2 separate regions of the Homo sapiens genome follow, and region 1 is linked to region 2. A link means that fine-mapping ties the variant in region 2 to the expression of a gene that starts in the linked region. Tissue or cell type: gastroesophageal junction. Region 2 holds a variant in brackets; the other region holds the start of a gene. All regions are shown on one strand. Distances are from middle to middle.

Evidence for each region. PIP is the estimated chance that this variant, and not a neighbour inherited with it, causes the effect.
Region 1: ZNF268 starts here. The variant in region 2 is fine-mapped to the expression of ZNF268 in gastroesophageal junction (GTEx, PIP above 0.99). The same link has a PIP of 0.9 or more in esophagus mucosa, left ventricle, prefrontal cortex, stomach, transverse colon and visceral fat.

What each region holds. Positions count from the first base shown.
Region 1 is chr12:133,177,682-133,188,412 of GRCh38, reverse strand. ZNF268 (zinc finger protein 268) reads right to left here and starts at 6,918. Exons shown (of 6, transcript NM_003415.3): 1 at 6,727-6,918; 2 at 6,383-6,467; 3 at 341-541. The coding sequence starts at 6,415. RefSeq lists enhancers at 6,531-6,730, 6,771-7,080, 6,676-7,200.
Region 2 is chr12:133,063,875-133,074,605 of GRCh38, reverse strand. No RefSeq gene overlaps it. Among named protein-coding and RNA genes, the nearest start is that of ZNF140, 12 kb to the left of the region's middle. The variant G/C (reference allele first, on the strand shown) is at 4,434.

The DNA.
Region 1 (10,731 bases), 110 kb before region 2:
CCAGCCTGAGCCACACAGGGAGACCTCCTCTCTACTAAAAATAAAAAACATCAGCCAGGCATGGTGGCACTTGCCTGCTGTCCCAGCTACTCAAGAGGCTGAGGCTGGAGGATCACTTGAGCCTGGAGTTTGAGGCTGCAGTGAGTTATGATTGCACCACTGCGCTCCACTCTGGGCAACAGACCAAGACCCTGTCTCAAAAAAAAAAGTGGGGGGGTTTTGAACTGAACTGAGGAGTGATTAACTTAACCCTCTGACCTAAGGATCTCCATCCCTCTCTGCACCAAAAAAAAAAAAGGTAATAAAGAAAACACTAGGAATAAACAAATGAGAAGCTCACCCAGGACTTGGTGATTTTTGGCTGCTCTTGGGAAATAAACAGCCACTCTAGGACTTTCTCTATTCTGCGACTCTTCTGCTTCTGCCTGGGTGTTCCAGGGAGAGGTTGCAGACCAGGAGTCCCTTGGCCCAAGATGGATTCCTGACCTTGGAGCTTTCTGATCCTATCCCATGAACTGTTTCGTTCTTGGAGAGGTGGGACCTGTGGACTCAAGAGCAAATTTACTTTAGCGAGCATTATTTCCTTTGGGGAAAAGGAAATAGGGGTCACATCACATAAATGTGAGAGAAACACGTTAGAAAACAAGGCAGGTTTAACTTCAGGAAATGCAGGGTTAGAGGCAGAAAAGAAATGGCTTCCTGACAAGGCTTAGCACCAAGAGTTCAAGTCAAGTTTTGAGCCCTTCATGATAAAAATACAGGTACGACCCTCAAACAGCAAAGCTAGAGAAAACTGTCCTGGCTCATCCTAGCCTCCAAACGGACTTCCTGCCACAAACCAAATGGCGTCTTAATAGGCTGGTTTGGTAGGGCAGTAGGAATACCCACACAACATTATTATGAGGGAATAAGGAACCAAACGAGGCTCTGACAGACAATAAAAACATAACCAAAATATCTGACCACATAAAAAATTGTAACATAATATTTCAAAATGAAGTAAAAGAAATCAGAAAAACGAAACTTTGAAAGGACAGATATATAAAAAATAAAAGAGCCTAGAAAGTAGATGCTTAGAAATGTGAAATCTGGAAAATGTGAAATGAGAAATATCAGAATAAATAAATAAATTAGGAAAAAAATTCAGAAATGAAGATTAAATTTAGGAGGAACATAAAAAAGCGCCAACGACCTAGAAGGCGGCACAGGTGAAAAGTGGGGAAAGCCTAAAAAAAAAGGAATAAAAAATTAGAAAAAGAAACAATGAATGAAATGCCATGAAAAGGCTGTTCACCAAGGCATTTTTATAACCCAAATATCTGTAACTACATAACTGGTTGAAAACACTATGGGCCATCCATACAGCCAGTAAAAGGTGATAAGAGATAGGGAAGAGGGAGCGAACAACCTCTATGTACCACTATTGGTATAATACAATGATCAATATATACTCTTAGTGATAATGACAAGGGGAAGAATAGTACGTACAGAAAGCTAGCTTTTGTGTTACAAAAAAGAAGTGGGATTGCAAGTATACGTATACGCATGTGTGTGCCATATAAATGGGATCATATAATATCTAGTCTTTTGTGTCTGGCTTCTTTCACTTCGCATAATGCTTTCAAGGTTTATGCTTGTCATAGCACATATCAATAGTTTGTTCTTTTTGTTGGTGAATAGTATTCCATCACGTTTCATCATTCACCATTAATGGACATTAAGATTATTCCCTGGAGGCTGGGCGCAGTGGCTCATGCCTGTAATCCCAGAACTTTGAGAGGTCGAGGCAGGTGAGTTGCCTGAACTCAGGAGTTCGAGACCAGCCTGGGCAACACAGTAAAACCCCGTCTCTACTAAAATACAAAAAAAAAATCAGCCAGGCGTGGCAGCGTACACCTGTAGCCCCAGCTACTTGGGAGGCTGAGGCAGGAGAATTGCTTGAACCTGGGAAGCAGAGGTTGCAGTGAGTGCCACTGTACTCCAGCCTGGGCAACAGAGTGAGACTCCATCTCCAAAAAAAAAAAAAAAGATTATTCCCTGGAGACCAACAGCTTATGTCTCAGAGCCTTCTCTGTGTACACTGGGCACAGTCTACCCGCTCCACATTTTACTCTACATTTCAGGGTCTAGGATCCTAGAATCTCTGCCTCAAGAAATCCTCAACCTACATCCAGAGACTAAATAAGGTACACAGGCCAGGAAAATGCATGTAGAGCCAGAATATCTGGGTTCAAGTCCTGGCTCTACATTGACCAGGGGTGCCACCTGGTCTCCAACTAGCCCTTTCTGGACCTCAGTACCCTTACCCATCAAAGGAGAAAAACAGTATTCACCACCTGGGGCTAGGGCTACTGTGAAGTTTTAAGGTGATAATACCTAATAAATGATTTAGCACAGAACCTCATACGTAGTAGACACTGAGCATTAACATTTGGTTGAAACGGCAAAAGAAAACAAAACAAAACATAAAACCAGGAATACTTAATGAAAATAAACCACACTACAAAATGACAATCAACAAGATAAAAAGCATATGCTGGTTCTTAGAAAAGAGGACTCCACCTTCAAACATCCCCCAACTCTGACCAGTGTCTCCATTTCTACCACACTACACAAAATCCCTGCTACCTCTTGTCTGAACGTGGTCACCTAGTCAGTCTCTGGCTTCCCCCTCTTTCTGTGCCTACTCTTGCCCACCTACAACCTGTCCCCCACTCAGCACTCAGAAGGGTCTTTGGAAACCCTAAGCAGCTCACGTTGCTCCCTGTCTTAGCGCCACACACTCTCCCGGGCCCCATGGCTTCCCAGCCTGATCTGGCCTCTGCACCTGTGTTCATCTGCTCTCCTCTCTCTCACTCCCTACCCCCAGTCACAAAGTCCTTCCTTCCAGGTTACCTGATCTGGCCTCTGCACCTCTGTTCATCTGCTCTCCTCTCTCTCACTCCCTGATCTGGCCTCTGCACCTGTGTTCATCTGCTCTCCTCTCTCTCACTCCCTACCCCAGTCACAAAGTCCTTCCTTCCAGGTTACCAAGGCATCAAACTTCTCTTGCCTCGCAGCCTTGGCCCTGGCTGTTCCCATCCTGGATGTTCTTCTACCTGCTCTTCCCAAGGCTGGCTTGCTATTGTAACTCAGACTTAGCTTAGACGTCACTTCCTCAGTGGGGGCCTTCCCTGAGCACCCAAGCTAAAGTAGCCACCACACATTCTTTGTTTTTTTTTTTTTTTTTGAGACAGAGTCTCACTCTGTCGCCAGATTGGAGTGCAGTGGCGTGATCTTGGCTCACTGCAACCTCCTACTCCTGGGGTTCAAGCGATTTTTCTGCCTCAGCCTCCCGTGTAGCTGGGATTACAGGTGCCCACCATCACGCCCAGCTAATTTTCATATTTTTAGTAGAGACGAGGTTTCGCCATGTTGGCCAGGCTGGTCTCGAACTCCTGACCTCAGATGATCTGCCCACCTTGGCCTCCCAAAGTGCTGGGACTACAGGCGTGACCCACCACACACAGCCCATCACCACTAAATTCCATTTAGGTTTTTATGACTGCTACGGTTTCAATGATTGCATCCCTCCAAAATTCATGTTGAAACTTAACCCCCATTGTGATGGTATTAAGAGGTGGGGCCAATTAGCTGGGCATGGTGGTGCGCACCTGTAATCCCAGCTACTCAGGAGGCTGAGGCAAGAGAACCACTTGAACTCGGGAAGCAGACGTTGTGGTGAGCAGAGATAGCCACTGCACTCCAGCCTGGAAGACAGAGCGAGACTCAGTCTCAAAAAAATAAACAAATAAATAAATAAATAAAGAGGTGCGGCCTTTTAATAGTGATTAAGTCATGACGGCTCTCCTTCAGGAATGGGATTAATACCCTCTTAAAGAGGTTTCAGAGAGCTGCCTGGCCCTTTCATCTCTTTGGCCATGTGAGGACACAGCATTCTTCCCTTTTTGCCCCCTTCCACCATGTAAGGATGTAGCAAGAAAGTGCCATCTTGAAAGCAGAGAGCAGAGCCGGGTGCGGTGGCTCACGCCTGTAATCCCAGCACTTTGGGAGGCTGAGACAGGTGGATCATGAGGTCAGGAGATCGAGGTCATTGTGGCCAACACAATGAAACCACGTCTCTACTAAAAATACAAAAAAAAAATTAGCTGGGCGTGGTGGCACACGCCTGTAGTCCTATTTGGGAGGCTGAGGCAGGGGAATCACTTGAACCCGGGAGGCAGAGGTTGCAGTGAGCCAAGATCGCGCCACCGCACTCCAGCCTGGGGACAGAGAGAGACTGTCTCCAAAAAAAAAAAGAAAACAAGAAAGCAGGCCTCATCAGATACCAAATTCACCAGCACCTTGATCTTCAACTTGTCAGCCTCCAGAATTGTGAGAAAGTAGTATCTGTTATAAGTTCCTCAGTCTGTGATATTTTGTTACAGTAGCACAAACAGACTAAGACAATGATCTAATATTACTTGATCTCCCTCATACATGTCACTTGACAAGCATTTTTGAGGTTTCCATTTCTTTAAGTGTGAATTACATGTCTCTATTTTGTCTTACTTTTCTTGGGTTCCATCTCAGTCTTCAACACCTCTTCCCCTGCTTTCTCTTGTCATTTCCCTGACCACTGTCCTCAGTTCTCTTCTTAGGGTACACATTCTCCCTGAGCTACTTTGGCCACACCTAATTTGCAACCTCTACCTAGAGGAGCCAATCCATACAAAACTGAAATCTTCCCCCTCTACCAATCACAATTCTGACAGTCTTCCCTTACTCAGCAAATGGTGACACTCCCAACCAGGCCCACAGAGTAGAACTCCAGTTGTCATCCCTGGCTTTTCTGCCTCTCTTAGCACTGCACCCAACTAGTTATGAAATCTAATTTCTTCTGCCTCTTTACCTCCTCTCCTTTTTTTTTTTTTGAGACAGAGTCTTGCTCTGTCACCCAGGCTGGAGTGCAGTGGCGCGATCTCGGCTGACTGCAACCTCTGCCTCCTGGGTTCAAGCGATTCTCCTGTCTCAGCCTCCCGAGTAACAGGGATTACAGGTGGGAGCCACTGCACCCAGCCACCTCCTCTCCTTTCTCAAAACCACTAATTTACTTAAACCCTTATATTCTCTTACCTGCTGCAGACTAGACTGTTCTACCCTCAAATCCGTTGTGAAAACACTTCAATAAGTAAACTCCTTCCCCTATACCAACAGTCCCCAACCAGGGACTCGTTTTGTGGAGGACAATTTTTCCATGGACGGGCAGTCGGGTGCGGCGATGGCTTCTGGATGAAACTGTTCCACTTCAGATCATCAGGCATTAGAGTCCCATAAGAAGTGCGCAACCTAGATCTTTCGCATGCGCAGTTCACAATAGGGTTTGTGCTATGAAAAGCTAATGCAGCCTCTGATAGGAGGCGGGGCTCCGGCAGTCATGCTCACTAAACCGCCACTCGCCTCCTGCCATGCACCCCAGTTCCTAACAGACCACAGACTGGTACCAGTCTGAAGCGTGGGGGTTGGGGACCACCTGCCCTATGTGATACAATCCAAGTTTTTAATGGGGTCCTCAAAGCCCTCTATGATCTTAGGCCTACGGCTCTAGCCTCATTTTTTAATATAACTCTACTATCACCATTAAACTCAACATTTTAGCAACCCTAAAGTGCCCAAAGTTCACCACATGAGGTCATTTCAAGCCTCTCAAATTTGCACGTTACTTCTTTTTCCTAGGCTGGTTTTAATCCTTTGTCTACTTTAGGTTTGTCATCTTTCAAACCTAAGGTTAAGAATCTCTTAATCATTGAAGCATTTGGGAGTAAGGGGTTAGGGGGTGTCCTTACTTCCAAAACTGACCCATTCCTGCATGTCTCCGTGTATTTCCACAGCCTGCTCCCAGAGCACTCATTAACTTGTCATTGTCTTTCTTATCCACCATTCCTAGACCACTGTTCTTCAAGACAGGGATGATAAGCAACCCATCTTTGCATTTTTAGCACCTGCCCCAGGGTCCAGCAAACAAAATACAATAAAAAAAAATGTTGAACAAGTGAATAAAAAAGTTTGTAATTTCCAAAATAAGGTTTAAAGATCCCAGATACAGAAGGCCCTCAGTAAATAAAGGCTGAAAAAACTGAAAGATGTGTGAGTATCCCTTGTTTAACTCCAAAGTTCAGCGTACAAAGTTGTTAGAAAAGAGATTGATGAAAGGAGGAAAAAAGGAAGTCGGATGACAAGAAGCATTTCTGGAAAGTCTAACATGCTATAAATGACGATCCAGTTGCCTAAAAGAGCGGTGGGGTGAGAAAGCTCCTGGCAAATTCAGACTGGAGTAGATGGAGTGCGCACACGTTGGCATTCAGGGAGAGCTTTTCAAGAATGAAAGAAAACCCCTACTCACCCAAATAGAAGCTGTCCGGACCCTGGTGGCCATCCCTACGGTCAGTTTTGTGTGCCTCGCTGGAAGTGACAGGACGCGAGGGATGCTAGAAGAGAGAGCACAGTGAAGAAAGAGGTCACCCAGCAGTCCCCAAACCCAGAGGGGGAGGGTCCGAGGCACCAGGGCTGCCTGCCATTCTCGGAGCTGAGGCTCCTTCCCTCCCACAGCACGGGATTCACCATCTCCACACCCTCACCAACACACAGGTTAGGGTCAGGCAACCGCCCCGGGTCAGCAGCAGGAGAGAGCTAAGGCAGATTAGTTCTGTCCCGTCCCGCCGCCTTGAAACCGGAGGAATTCCGCACCTCCGGCTCCTCCAAACCCTGAAGGGGCAGCAGAATAGAGTCCAGGGTACTGCCTCCACCTCCAGATCTGCAGCCAGAAGGGTTCGCAACCACTCCAGACTCGGCTGGCCCGTTGACCACGACGGGCGATGAACGCTATCTGAGGAACAAGGATCTCGCCATCGGCGCGGAACAATGGCGGCCGCTACGTATGTCGCACAGGAATTGCGTCATGGAGAGGCAAAGGCAAAAAAACTACAACTCCCAGAGGCCTCTGCGAGGAGTTACTCCCGCGCCGGAGGGCTCCGGCCAAGGGCCACCGGGAGGGGGCGTGCTAAGATGACCCGGAAGCTCAGGCCTTCCTGGCCAGGTCCCTGAGCTCCCGCGCTTGCAGGTTTTAAATTTTAAAGAGAATTAAAATACTTGACACCAATGGCTCAACGGTTGGAGGGATGTAAATTAGGTTACAAGTGTTCTAGTCCCTGCTTTACTGAAATGGTAAAAGTCTTATTTTGCTTTACACTTTAATAACAGATTCGTAAAATTCCCATTACATGTTAACATAAATAATATTTTAATGAAAATTACATATATTTTACAAAAGAAAAAATTTAGTAAGGAGTGGCTTCGCTTTTTAAGTCTTTTCTGACTTACTAGAAAGCTGGATTCTCATATCTGCTTCTATGTTTAATCTGTTGCGTATGTTGTTTTTGTTAAAGTATATAAAGATACAAGTCGAACAAGGGATAGTTTTGTTAGTGTACAATCTGAAACCACGTAGATGAACTTTTTCTACTCTATTACATAAAATCCGTTGGTCTACACTGCACTTTGAATGGATTCTTTTATCACGCATGATTTCGTAACATCATGTATTGGCCAGTTGGAAAATATTGGTTTACTTTAATGGCAAAAGCCGCAATTACTTACTTTTGCACCAACGGAAAATATCCACTAATCATTATTGATCTTAAGTATTGGGAAGAGGTGACATTCACAGAGGCAGATACAAGTTTTCTAGAATTCTTTTGTTTTTGGCTTTTAAAAACTTTTATAAATTTATGAGGTACAAGTGTAATTTTGTTACATGCATCAGTTGTGTAGTGGTGATGTCAAGGCTTTTAAGGTATCCACGCCCTATAGTACGTTATATGCATTGTACCAGTCAGGTAATTTATGATTATCCCTGAAACCCCCCCACACCTTTTGAGTCTTCATTGTCTATCATCCCACACTCTACATCCATGTGTACATATCCTTTAGCTCATACTTAAAGTGAAAACATGTGTTTTTCTTTCTGTGCCTGAGTTGTTTCACTGAAGATAGTGGCCACTAGTTCCATCCATGATGCTGCAAAAGACAATTTCATTCTTTCTTATGGCTGAATAGTATTCCATTGTGTATATATAACACATTTTCTTTATTCATCCATTCATGGACATTTAGGTTAATTCCATACCTGTGATATTGTGAATAGTGCTGTGATAAACATATGAGTGCAGGTATTTTTTTTATATATATAATGATTTCCTTTGGGTAGATACTCAGTAACAGGATTGCTTTATCAAATGGTAATTCTATTTTTAGTTCTTTGAGAATTCTCCACACTGTTTTCCATAGGTTATACTAATTTCACTTTCTCACCAACAGTGTATAGGAGTTTCCTTTTCTCCACATCCTCACCAACATCTTCTTTGTCTTTTTATTTTTATTATTTTATTTTATTTTTTGAGACGGAGTTTTGCTCTTGTTACCCAGGCTAGAGTGCAGTGGCCCGATCTCGGCTCACCGCAACCTCCGCCCAGGTTCAAGCAATTCTCCTGCCTCAGCCTCCTGAGTAGCTGGGATTACAGGCATGCACCACCACACCCGGCTAATTTTGTATTTTTAGTGGAGACAGGTTTCTCCATGTTGGTCAGGCTGGTCGCAAACTCCCGACCTTAGGTGATCCGGTCACCTCAGTTTACCAAAGTGCTGGGATTACAGGCATGAGCCACCGAGCTCGGCCTGTTTTTGTTTGTTTTGATTTTTTTTTCCTTTTGAGACGGAGTCTCGCTCTGTCGCCCAGGCTGGAGTGCAGTGGCGCGATCTGGGCTCACTGCAAGCTCCGCCTCCCGGGTTCACGCCATTCTCCTGCCTCAGCCTCCCAAGTAGCTGGGACTACAGGGGCCCGCCACCACGCCTGGCTACTTTTTTGTATTTTTTAGTAGAGACGGGGTTTCGCCGTGTTAGCCAGGATGGTCTTAATCTCCTGATCTCGTGATCTGCCCGCCTCGGCCTCCCAAAGTGCTGGGATTACAGGCGTGAGCCACCGCACCCGGCCCGGCCTGTCTTTTTAATAACAGCTACTGTGACTGATGTAAGATAATATCTCTTTTTTTTCCCCCACAACCTCGCTCTGTCGCCCAGGCTGGAGTGCAGTGGCTTGATCTCGGCTCACTGCAACCTCCGCCTCCTGGGTTCAAGCAATTCTCCCCGCCTCAGCCTCCCAAGTAGCTGGGATTACAGGTGCCCACCACCATGCCCGGCTAATTTTTGTATTTTTTATGAGAGACGTGGTTTCGCCATGTTAGCCAGACTGGTCTTGAACTCCTGATCTCAGGTGATCTGCTCACCTCGGCCTCCCAAACTGCTGGGATTACAGGCGTGAGCCACAGCGCCCGGCCTCATTGTGGTTTAAATTTGCATTTCTCTGATGTTTAGTGATGATGTTGAGCATATTTTCATATGCCTGTTGGCCATTTGTATGTCTTCTTTTGTAAAGTGTTATTTGTGTTCTTTGCCTGCTTCTTAATGGGATTATTTGGGTTTCGTTGTTGTTGTTGATCTGTTTGAGTTCCCTGTAAACTCTAGATATTAGTCCCCTCTTGTATGCAAAGCTTGCAAAAATTTTCTCCCATTCTGCAAGTGTCTCTTCACTCTGCTTACTGTTTATTTCACTATGAAGAAGATTTTTAGTTTAAGTCCCATTTCTCTCTTTTTCTGTTTGTTGCATGTGCTTTTGAGGTCTTAGTCATGAATTATTTACCCAGACCAATGTCCAGAGGGGTTTTCCGTAGGTTTTCTTCTAGTATGTTTATAGTTTCAGGTATTCCATTTAAGTCTTTAATACAGCTTGAGTTGATTTTTGTATATGGCGAGAGATAAGGGTCAAGTTTCATTCTTCTGCATATGGCAATCCAATTTTCCCAGCACCATTTATTGAAGAGGTTGTATTTTCCCCATGCTTGTTCTTGTTGACTTTGTCAAAGATCAGTTGGCTGTAGATATGTGGCTTTATTTCTGGGATCTCTATCTGTTCCATTGACCTATGTGTCTGTTTTTATACCAGTACTATGCTGTTTTGGTTATTATAGCCTTATAGTATAATTTGAAGTCAGGTGAAGTTATGCCTCCAGCTTTGTTCTTTTTGTTCAGGATTGCTTTGGCTGTTTGAGCTCTTTCTCGGTTGCATATGAATTTTAGGATTTTTTTTCTTTTTCTTTTTCTTTTCTCTTTTTTTTTTTTTTTTTTTTTTTTTACACAGAGTCTCACTCTGTCACCCAGGCTGGAGTGCAGGGTCATGATCTCGGCTCACTGCAACCTCTGCCTCCCAGGTTCAAGCAATTCTCCTGCCTCAGCCTCCAGAGTAGCTGGGATTACGCGTGTGCACCACCATGCCCGGCTAATTTTTGTATTTTTAGTAGAGATGGGTTTTCACCATGTTGGCCAGGGTGGTCTTGAACTCCTGACCTCATGATATGCCCATCTTGGCCTCCCATAGTGCTGGGATTACAGCTGTGAGCCACCGCACCCGGCCTAGGATTTTTTTTCTCTAAATCTGTGGAGAATGACGTTGATATTTTGATAGGGAGTGCATTGAATCTGTAGATGGCTTTGGATAGTATGATAATTGTAACATTATTAATTCCTCTGAACAGCATGGGATGTTTTTCCATTTGTTTATATCATCTACAATTTCTATCATCAGTATTTTGTAACTTTCCTTGTAGAGAGTTTTCACCTCTTTGGTTAAATGTATTCTGA
Region 2 (10,731 bases):
AGTGGGTTAAAATTGGGGTAAATGTAACAGACTACCTTTCTCGTGAGTTTTTAAAATCATGCTCAATGGTTGAAGCAAAAATTTTAACATCATCTGATGTGAGACTTAAATGTATATAGAGGAAAGACTTAAGACAATTATAGTAAAGAGTGAAAGGGCCAGGTGCAGTGGCTCACACCTGCAATCCCAGCACTTTGGGAGGCTGAGGTGGGAGGCTTGCTTGGGGCCAGGAGTTTGAGACCAGCCTGGGCAACATAGTGAGACCCTGTCTCTAACAGCAAGAAGAAGAGTAAAGGGACCTAAATGGAAGAGAGGTTTTTACACTTTAGTCAAAGTTGTAACATATCAATACCTGTAGATTGTGACATTAGGCATATATATCATACTACCTATTGAAACCACAAAGCTATATTCAAAAATACTTTCAATAGCTAAAAACTGGAATTCTAAAATAAGTTCAAGTAGCCCACAGGAAAGCAAGAAAATGGAAAAACAGTAATAAGCAGAAGGAAGAAACAGAAAATAAAAAATAGAAGTCCCACATAATGCTTATGTATAAAAAATAAAAGTCCCACATAACGCTTATGTATAAAAAATAAAAGTCCCACATAATGCTTATGTATAAAAATAGGAAACACACAGACACACAAGTATATATCACTGTGAGTATACTGTAAATTCTTGTTTTTTCTTCTTTCTGTTTCTTAAATATACTAAGATAATTCTCACGAGTTACTCCTCTCTGCTAGAACACTAGTATTTCCACTCAAATTCACCTTCTTAAAAAGACCTATTAAACTACCAATTATATGTTCACCATTTCGGTAATGGCTATGCTAGAAGCCCAATCTCCACCAGAATGCAATATACCCAGGTAACAAACATGCACCAAGTACTCCCTGAATCTAAAATAAAATTAAATTTAAAATTTAAAAATTAAGGCCGGGCATGGTGGCTCACGCCTGTAATCCTGGCACTTTGGGAGGCTGAGATGGGTGGATCACTTGAACTCAGGAGTTGTAGAGCAGTCTGGCCAATGTGATGAAACCCCGTCTCTACTAAAAATACAAAAATTAGCCGGGTGTGGTGGTGCACACCTGTAGTCCCAGCTACTCGGGAGGCCGAGGTGGGAGAACTGCTTGAACCTGGGAGGCGGAGGTTGCTGTGAGCTAAGATCGTGCCATTGCACTCCAGCCTGGGTGACAGAGCAAGACTCCGTCTCAAAAAAAAAATTAAAAATTAAATAAGCTTGAATAAGATTTTTAAAAAACTACCAGTTGCAGTTTTCCTCACATTTAAATCAATCTGTATCATATTACCCTGTTTTGTTTTATCATAGCATTTATTCAAATATTTAAAAGTATGTATATATAATTAAAAAGTGTATGTATATATACATACACTTTTATATACATATATGTACATATTTACATATATATATATATGTCTCTTGTTAAAATATAAACTCTGTGACAGAAGAAATCTTTTCTTACTGACTTTCACCCTATTGCGTGGAACATTATAGGTAGTACATGGTAGGTAAAGGTTCATAAAATATGTTTTGAATTAGTATATTCAATTTTTTTTGTAAACGTCTGTGCACAGTTTCATTGTATACATTTTTCATAAATTAGCCAATAAAGACTTACAGGAGACAGTTTTACTTTCTATAACCTTAAGTTTTATGCAAGTGAAATCTATGTTTTATAGTTATTCTCCTTAGTGTATGTTTTAACATTTTTTTCACCCACATTATAGATATTAATATAACTATATATAATGTTTTTACTTTTTTTGAGACAGGGTCTCACTCTGTCACCTAGGTTGGAGTGCAGTGGTGCAATCATGGCTAACTGCTGCCTCAACCTCCCAGACTCAAGTGATCCTCCTACCTCAGCCTCCCAAGTAGCTGGAACTACAGGCCTATGCCACCTTGCCCAGCTAATTTTTATTTTTTGTAGGGACAGGGTCTCCCTATGTTGCCCAGGCTGATATCAATTCCTGGGCTCAAGCAATCCTCCCACCTTGGCCTCCTAAAGTGCTGGGACTACAGGTGTGAGCTACTGTACTGTTTCTTATGTGCCAATTGTAGAATTATCCTTTCTGGCATTTGTCTTTTTTAGTGTGATATAGGGATGCAACATTATTATTTTGTACAAACTGCTTGGTTGTAGGTCCAAACAACATGTATTGGATAAAACGTGCTTTGAGCTGGACATAGTGGCTCATTCCTGTAATCCCAGCAGTTTGAGAGGCCAAGGCAGGAGAATCACTTGAGGCCAGGAGTTCAAGACCAACCTGGGCAACATAGCGAGATCCCCATCTCTACAAAAAATAATTAGCCAGACATGGTAGTGTGCATCTGTAGTTCTAACTACTTGGGAGGCTGAGCCAGCAGGATCACTTCAACACAGGAGTTGAAGGCTGCAGTGAGCTATGATCGTACCACTGCATTCTAGCCTGGGTGACAGAGTGAGACCCTATCTCTAATAATTAAATTGGCTGGGTGCGGTGGCTCACGCCTGTAATCCCAGCACTTTGGGAGGTTGAGGCGGGCGGATCACCAGAGGTTGGGAGTTTGAGACCAGCCTGGCTAACATGAAGAAACCCTGTCTCTACTAAAAATACAAAATTAGCCGGGCATGGTAGTGCATGCCTGTACTCCCAGCTACTCAGGAGGCTGAGGCAGGAGAATCACTTGAAACCAGGAGGCGGAGGTTGCGGTGAGCCGAGATCGTGCCATTGCACTCCAGCCTGGGCAACAAGAGCGAAACTCCATGCCCCCCCCAAAAAAATTAAATTAAACTGAATTTTAAAATCAAATTGTTTTCAGTAGCCTAGAGAACACATAGAGGATGCTTCTCTTCAATAGGGCTCTGCCACATGAAGTCATCTCTGGATGTATTTTTAAGAATAAGGATATATATATATGATCTCTCTATATTATATATATAAGATCTGTATATAGAGAGATATAGATATAAGAATAAGTATATATATATCCCCCTCAAGGTTCTTTTAATGACTCATTTTCTCCTTTTCTCTGATCCTCAGTTTATAGCTTCAGCAGCAGAGATCAGAAGAGATCAGCCTAAACATTTCTTAAAATGATATTGTGAACACTAGTGTATAAGTCTTTGGAGACACATGTTTTCATTTTCCTTGGTAAATACAGAAGAGTAGAATTGCTGAATCATATGGCCAGCATATATTTAACTTTTAAGAAACTGCCAAACTGTTTTCCAAAGTGTTTTTTTTTTTTTAATTCCCACTAGCAACGTCTGAGAGTTCTGGTTCCTCCACATTATTGCCAGCACTTGGTATTGGCAGTGTTTTGTTTAGCCATTATGATGGGTGTAATGTGGTATCTCAGCTTTATTCTTCATAGCCGAAAATCTGAAACAACCCAAATGTCCACCAACAGGTGCACAGACAGACAACTGGGTATATTCATACAAAGGAATAATCAGCAATAAAAAGAAACAAACCGCTGATGCCCACACAACACGCACAAATCCCAAAAACACCAGAGTGGAAGTAACCACACAAAAACAAATACTTTTTGCATAATTTCCATTTATATAAAATTATAGAAAAGATAAAAATAATCTATAGTATTAGAAGGGAGATTGGTGGTTACCTGGGGTCAGTGATGGGAGTGAGATTTGACCGGGAAGAGAAACAAGGGAATATTTTGGAGTAAAGGAAATGTTCTACATCTTGACAGGAGCTGTGGTTGCACAGCCAAAGACATTTTTCAAAGCTCATAGAACTTGAACTATACATTAGAAATATGTACACTTAGCCAGATGTGGTGGGGTGTGCACCTTAGTTCCAACTACTAGGCAGGCTGAGGCAGGACAATCACTTCAGCATAGGAGTTCAAGTCCAACCTAGGAAACATAGCGAGACCCAATCTCTAAAGAAAAAAAAGAAAAGTAAGTATACTTATTTGTATGCAATTTTTTTTGAGACAGAGTCTCGCTCTGTCACCCAGGCTGGAGTGCCGTGGCACAATCTCGGCTCACTGCAACCTCCACTTCCTGGGTTCAAGTGATTCTCCTGCCTCAGCCTCCTGAGTAGCTGGGATTACAGGCACCTGCCACATGGCCAGCTAATTTTTTGTATTTATAGTAGAGACGTGGTTTCACCATGTTGGCCAGGCTGGTCTTGAATTCCTGGCCTCAAGTGATCCATCTGCCTCAGCCTTGCAAAGTGCTGGGATTACAGGCATGAGCCACCATGCCTGGCTCTATGCAAATTATATCAATAAAAATTCTAAATGTTTTGAAGAAATAACAAGAATTGATAGCAGTGGCTCAAGCCTGTAATCCCAGCACTTTGGGAAGCCAAGGCAGGCAGATTGCTTGCACCCAAGACTTAGAGACCAGCCTGGGAAACATGGTGAAACTCATCTCTACTAAAAGTTATTC[G/C]GGCATGGTGGTGTGCACCTGTAACCCAGCTATTCGGGAGGCTGAGGTGGGAGGATCACCTGAGCCTGGGATGTCGAGGCTGCAGTGAACCAGAGCTCCACTGCACTCCAGCCTGGATGACAGAGTGAGACCCTATCTGAGAAGAAAAAAAAAGCAAAGCAAATAAACAGACTAAAATTTGTTAAAGGAATATTTAAAACACAGCGTGTCTGACCCCACAGAAAGCAACAGTTGAACCAGAGATGGTGCGTGGGCCCTGTGGAGAACAGATCTGAAATTTTTTTTTTTGAGGCAGAGTCTTGCTCTGTCGCCCAGGCTGGAGTGCAGTGGCGTGATCTCAGCTCACTGCAAGCTCTGCCTCCCAGGTTCACGCCATTCTCCTGCCTCAGCCTCCCGAGTAGCTGGGACTACAGGTGCCCACCACCATGCCCGGCAAATTTTTTGTATTTTTTTTTTTAGTAGAGACGGGATTTCACCGTGTTAGCCAGGATGGTCTCGATCTCCTGACCTCATGATCCGCCCGCCTCAGCCTCCAAAAGTGCTGGGATTACAGGCATGAGCCACCGCGCCCGGCCCAGATCTGTAATTTTTATGTAAGAAGTAGCAAGTACCGAAAGTGGCCTAATAATACATATATGTGCTCGAAGATTTAAGGGCCTGACATTTATGAAGTTTTTAGTTCAGTGAATGGAGGAATGCTAAGACATCCCTTTAAGGGAAAAGGCAAGTTATTGCTATTTGTACCCCACACATGCAGAGATAAAATGCTTGGTAGACCTCGTTGGATTTGGAAAGCAGCATAGAACACACTTGGAAATTCTATTCTAACAAATAGGCCTCTTGATGGATCCCAAGTTGTACAGTGTGTGCTTGTGATGCAACTGCAAGGTCCATTTTCAAAGATACCTTGTTTCTTCTATATTTTGGGTTCTCAAAATAAGGTAAGACATTCACAAGCTGTTCATCTATTTTGGCCTTTAAGATCCCTGATCAGTTAACCACTTCCAAAGGTTTATGTAGGTTTAACAATTCTCATCACCATTATGACCATGAACCTCCTGCACTAACCATGCCTGTCTTGCTCCTTGTGAGTAAATTCTGCTGAGAACTGTTCCATTGCAGAACCTATCATCCCCTTTGACATCAGGAATCTCATTTTAATGACAGTATCTATAACACATAACTATACCCACATTTTTACATGAGGCTGGTTCTCCCTTCACCAAGTAATTTCTCATGGTGAAAGAACTGTCCTCTGGCCCCTGTTGGGGGTCAAAATCGGAGGAATGAGTGAGTGGGTTACTTATGACAAATCTATATTAACAATATTTCCTTAAATCCTTAGATTTATGCGAAGAAATTTTTGACATCTCTATTTTACCTTAATATTGGCCTCTGTCAAGTCCAGCTTTCAGCTAATCAGCTAAGTAGAAACAAAGATACAAATAGATCAATAAAACCAAAGTCTTGTTTATTGTAAAAGCTAATAAATAAACAAATTTTGCCAAGATATAACAAGAATAAAAGTAAAAAATAAATATTATTAATGAAAAAAAGCAATATAACTACAAATACAGAAGAGATTCCAAATTTGGGGTTTTTTTTGAGATGGGGTCTCACTCTGTCACCCAACTAAGGTTCAGTGGTGTGTTCATGGCTCACTGCAACCTCAAACTCTCAGGCTAAAGCAATCCTCCCGCCTCAGCCTCCCAGGTAGCTGGGACTACAGGCAAGCACAACCACACCCGGCTAATTTTTTTAATTTTTTGTAGAGATGGAGTCTCACTTGTTTTTTTGCCCAGGCTGGTCTCGAACTCCTGGACTCAAGCGATCCTCCCACCTTGACCTCCCAAAGTGCTAGAATTACAGGCATGAGCCAGCATGCCCAGCTGAGATTTTAAAATCAGTAGGAACATATCTGTAATTTCATGTCAATAAATAGATATAATTAGTAGGAAAAAATCTACAAAAACGTCCTCAAGAATTGATAAAGCAGTGTGGAAAAACTGTGACTTACATGCTATCTTTTGTGGTAACTTGCTGGATTTTTATACGGTTTGTCTCCAGTCCTCTAGAATGCATGTGGTGTCTCCAACCTGCTGGCCACTTCCTACCTATCCTGCCTGACTGACATGACTTTGCTGCCATGTGTATTACTGTGATGTTCTATAAAATGTTCAGTCTATTCAGATTATATTATGATGGCTGACAGCCCTGGGTAAAACTGTGAATGCACAGTATTGTCTGTCTCATGTTAATGCTACATTTTCTGATCCTTTTTCCTGAATTGAATAAAAAGAATTGGTTTTCCAAATCAAAGGCCACTGCCACATACCCAAGGCCACTTAAATCTGCCTTAGAAACAATGTCATGTCTGCAAGTGGGACATGGACTTGGCTGAGCTCACCTGTAGTCATTCCCTAGGATTTGTTAATATCCCAGGGGCACTACTACCACATTCTTTAGGTCTTTACGAGTCGCACTCATCTCTGTCACCCCCTCCAACTCTTCTCCCCAAAATGCAATATTGTTTTTAATTTATGATCTTACCTTCTGGGTGGGATTCAGAGGTTTTCACCTGGCCTTCCCCACTATAGTGGCTTTTAACCAAAGACCAATAGTCCAATGTAGAAAGTACTCCAACTGCCAAGGATGTCAATCCCAATTATACATTCGAAGACCAAGCAAATGAGTAATGCATGGGTCAGGGTCACTGGGACCATTGGCCCCACAGTAAGCCTAAATGTATGACCAGGCCTAAATACGCTCTCATGCTGGCGGAGGCATGATAATGCTATGAAAGTCTGGTATCAGTATCAACTCAGACTTTGCGTATAATAGTCTTTAAAATCTCTGGATATTACCCTTTACCCAGTGTATAATGAACCAAGTAAGTGCCCATCAGTCTTTGACGAAGGGCTGGAGGTGTCGTCACAGTATATATTTGCCGTGGTGTCATAGGGTCTTTCCCCTTGGGGACCCACCTACCTCTTTAGTGTCTTTCTGATCTGAATATTAGCTCAAGTTCAAGGATCATGGCATTTTACTGAGGCAACTGCCCTTAGCCTCTTGCTCACCCATTCTCATCTTCTTGGACTATGTTTACTAACAAATTTCCTGGTTGCCTGTCTTATCTAGTTTATCCTTGGGGAAGTTATGTTTTACTAACCATCTTCACAAGTTCCTGTGAATCAAACCCTCTTGGCTGTCACACTGACCTTACTATTTATTATAATAAATGTGAATCCCTGGCTTCTGCCAATTAAGACTCACCACCCGGCCTTTCTTCCTTCAATTGTGGGATCCTTACAGGTGCATTACTCCAAATACCTTTCAAGAAAATACTTCCCATTCTCCTGGAGGGATTCATTGCTTTTGGGAGTTAGCACAGTATTTGAGACTGTGACCTTTTCAGGCAGCTGCCAGCCAGTGCGTGAGCACCATGGGGGATAGGATGGCCTGGCATCATTTCTGCTCAGTGTGGAACTCCTCTGTGGTAAATATTTGTGCTTGCATTTTACTTTGAGCTGACAAGAAATATCCCATTCCAGAGAGACTCTGGCAAACGTGGCAGCCCAGCTGCTACATATTTCACTGGCAGTTACCTGGGAAAATGTCCAAATGGAGAAAAACACCTGGTTGGTGTGATGACCCAGGCACTTAAAAGGTACGGAAGGGGGCGGGTGCGGTGGCTCACGCCTGTAATCCCAGCACTTTGGGAGGCCGAGGCGGGCGGATCACAAGGTCAGGAGATTGAGACCATCCTGGCTTGTAGTACAGGTGTGGGGAGTTAGCAGACAGCCCTCGCCTGTCAAGCCCTTCATGGTCAGCCTTTGCTGCAGAAGAGCTTCATCCAAAGTCACCTCCCTTCCAGGTCAGGCTGTATTCAGTGACTGAAAGAGGTGTGAACATAGACTAGACCATGCTTGCCTGACACATGAGCCCTGTCAGGCAACACTCACTACAGAGATCCATTCTAAGTTGGGAGCAGTTTTGTAGGATCTGCATTGCAGTTTAACCTTTTCTTTTGCTTAATCCTACTTCCTTCTCTTTCCTTTCACAGATACTGATCTACAGTGAATACCTCCAAAGTATATCTCAGAGTCAACTTTCAGAAAACCCAACAGATTGCAGCTTGTACCATTATTGAGGTGCTCCAAAATAGCAAAGGATGGGCCAAAGTTTTGGAACTGGATTACTCATTATCCAGCTGACATACAAACCCCACCACTGTGGCAGGTGGAGCACAAAGAGGCCCCGGCATAAGGAGGTGGTTCAATCATTAAATAGTTCACCAATAGTAAATTAAGAGGAAGCACCTGTGTTATGTAACAGATGTTTGAACTTAGGAGATAGATTATTATTAAATAACAGGTTTGGGTGCTGATATGTTTTGGCTGTGTCCCCAGCCAAACCTTATCTTGAGTTGTAGCTCCCATCATCCCCCCGTGTCGTGGGAGGGACCTGGGGGAAGGTAATTGTATCATGGAGGTGGGTTTTTCCCATGCTGTTCTTGTGGTAGTGAATAAATCTCATGAGATCTGATGGTTTTATACGGGCAGTTCCTCTGTACACGCTCTCCTGCCTGTCACCATGTAAGACGTGTCTTTGCTCCTCCTTCATTGTGAGGACTTCCCAGCCATGTGAAACTGTGAGTTCATTAAACCTCTTTTTCTTTATAAATTACCCAGTCTGTGGTATTTCTTTATAGCAGTATGAGAACGGACTAATACAGTGGCTACTGCTGAAAGCCACTGATGCTCTACATAAAGATAACAAACAGTTGAGGACAAGTAATAGACAATTGATTGCAGTTGTGAAAGTTAGAGGGCCTTTGGCTGCACAAAAAGCAGCTCACATCTGCTGTATCACAAGTGGTTATTAGGTCCTTGCTTGCAGGAAAAAAAAACTATTGCATGAGGAAAGGCCACGTGGAAGCCTCAAACTACAATCCACCCAAGATAGTAAATAAGAACAATCTCTGGGGGGATAGTAGAGATTAGAGACACCCTTCAGGATATAAAAGATTTAGGAGTGATGGTTCCCATCATATCTCTAGTAAAAACTACTCATAACTGCAATTCAACTTCAAGCTCAACTAAGTAGTAGTCCTGATCACAGCCATTAGGCCAGATGTGATATTTCCACTAGAAGAGATTAATACAGCCTCAGATACATGGTATATGGCCACTGATCCAGTAAATGCATTTTAATATCCCGATTCAGAAAAAAGCATAAATGTTTGCATTCATATCAAGTGAAATGATGTGGGCAATGAAATGAACAACATACACGGCCGGGCACAGTGGCTCATGCCTGTAATCCCAGCACTTTGGGAGGCTGAGGCAGGCAGATCACGAGGTCAGGAGATCGAGACCATCCTGGCTAACATGGTGAAACCCCATCTGTACTAAAAATACAAAAAATTAGCTGGGCATGGTGGCAGGTGCCTGTAGTCCCAGCTACTCGGGAGGCTGAGGCAGGAGAATGGCGTGAACCTGGGAGGCGGAGCTTGCAGTGAGCCGAGATCGTGCCACCACACTCCCGCCTGGGCGACAGAGTGAGACTCTGCCTCAAAAAAAAAAAAAAAAAGAAAAGAAAGAAAAACAATGTACACAAAATGGACAATGATATAACTAGTTTTGCTCCCAGAGCAATATTAACTCTCTCAACCTCAGAGCTGTGGTTATGGGAAGCACAAGGTCCCCCTAGAGGATCATCTGTGATCTTCCTGCTTCCACACTGCAGTACCCAAACCCATGTGTTCTTTCTCTTTGAAAACACAGCACCGTATAAAGGTCAAACATCAAGGATTAGCCCCAGAGGGGGCACTTTCCACCTGAGGACAGAGTGTTCTAAATTATAAACTACAGATACAGCATGGAACTTTGTACCCTTGTGTCCAAGGACCAGCATGCCAGAAAAGCCACTCTTTGCTGGGGCATTGACACTGATCATCAGCAGGTATGGCTGCTGTTACACAACAGGGCAGGAGAAAAAAGGAGTGGAACTCAGGTGGCCCTCCTAGGTGCCTCTTTGAACTTCCTTGCCCCATTGTGATGTAAGTGGACAAATACAGCAACTTGGATCTGAAAAGGACATGGTGGCCAGGGCTCTGACCCCCTCAGGAATAAGGGTCTGGGACAAGCTACCACATAAGCCACTTATGTCCACAGAGGTGCTAACAGGGTGTGATGAGAATCTACAGTGACTAATACAGAAAGCAACTGCAACATTAGGGGCTGTGGTTTGTCCTATGAATCTTCCTTTTCTTAGTGTCTCTTCAGAGAGAGCCCCA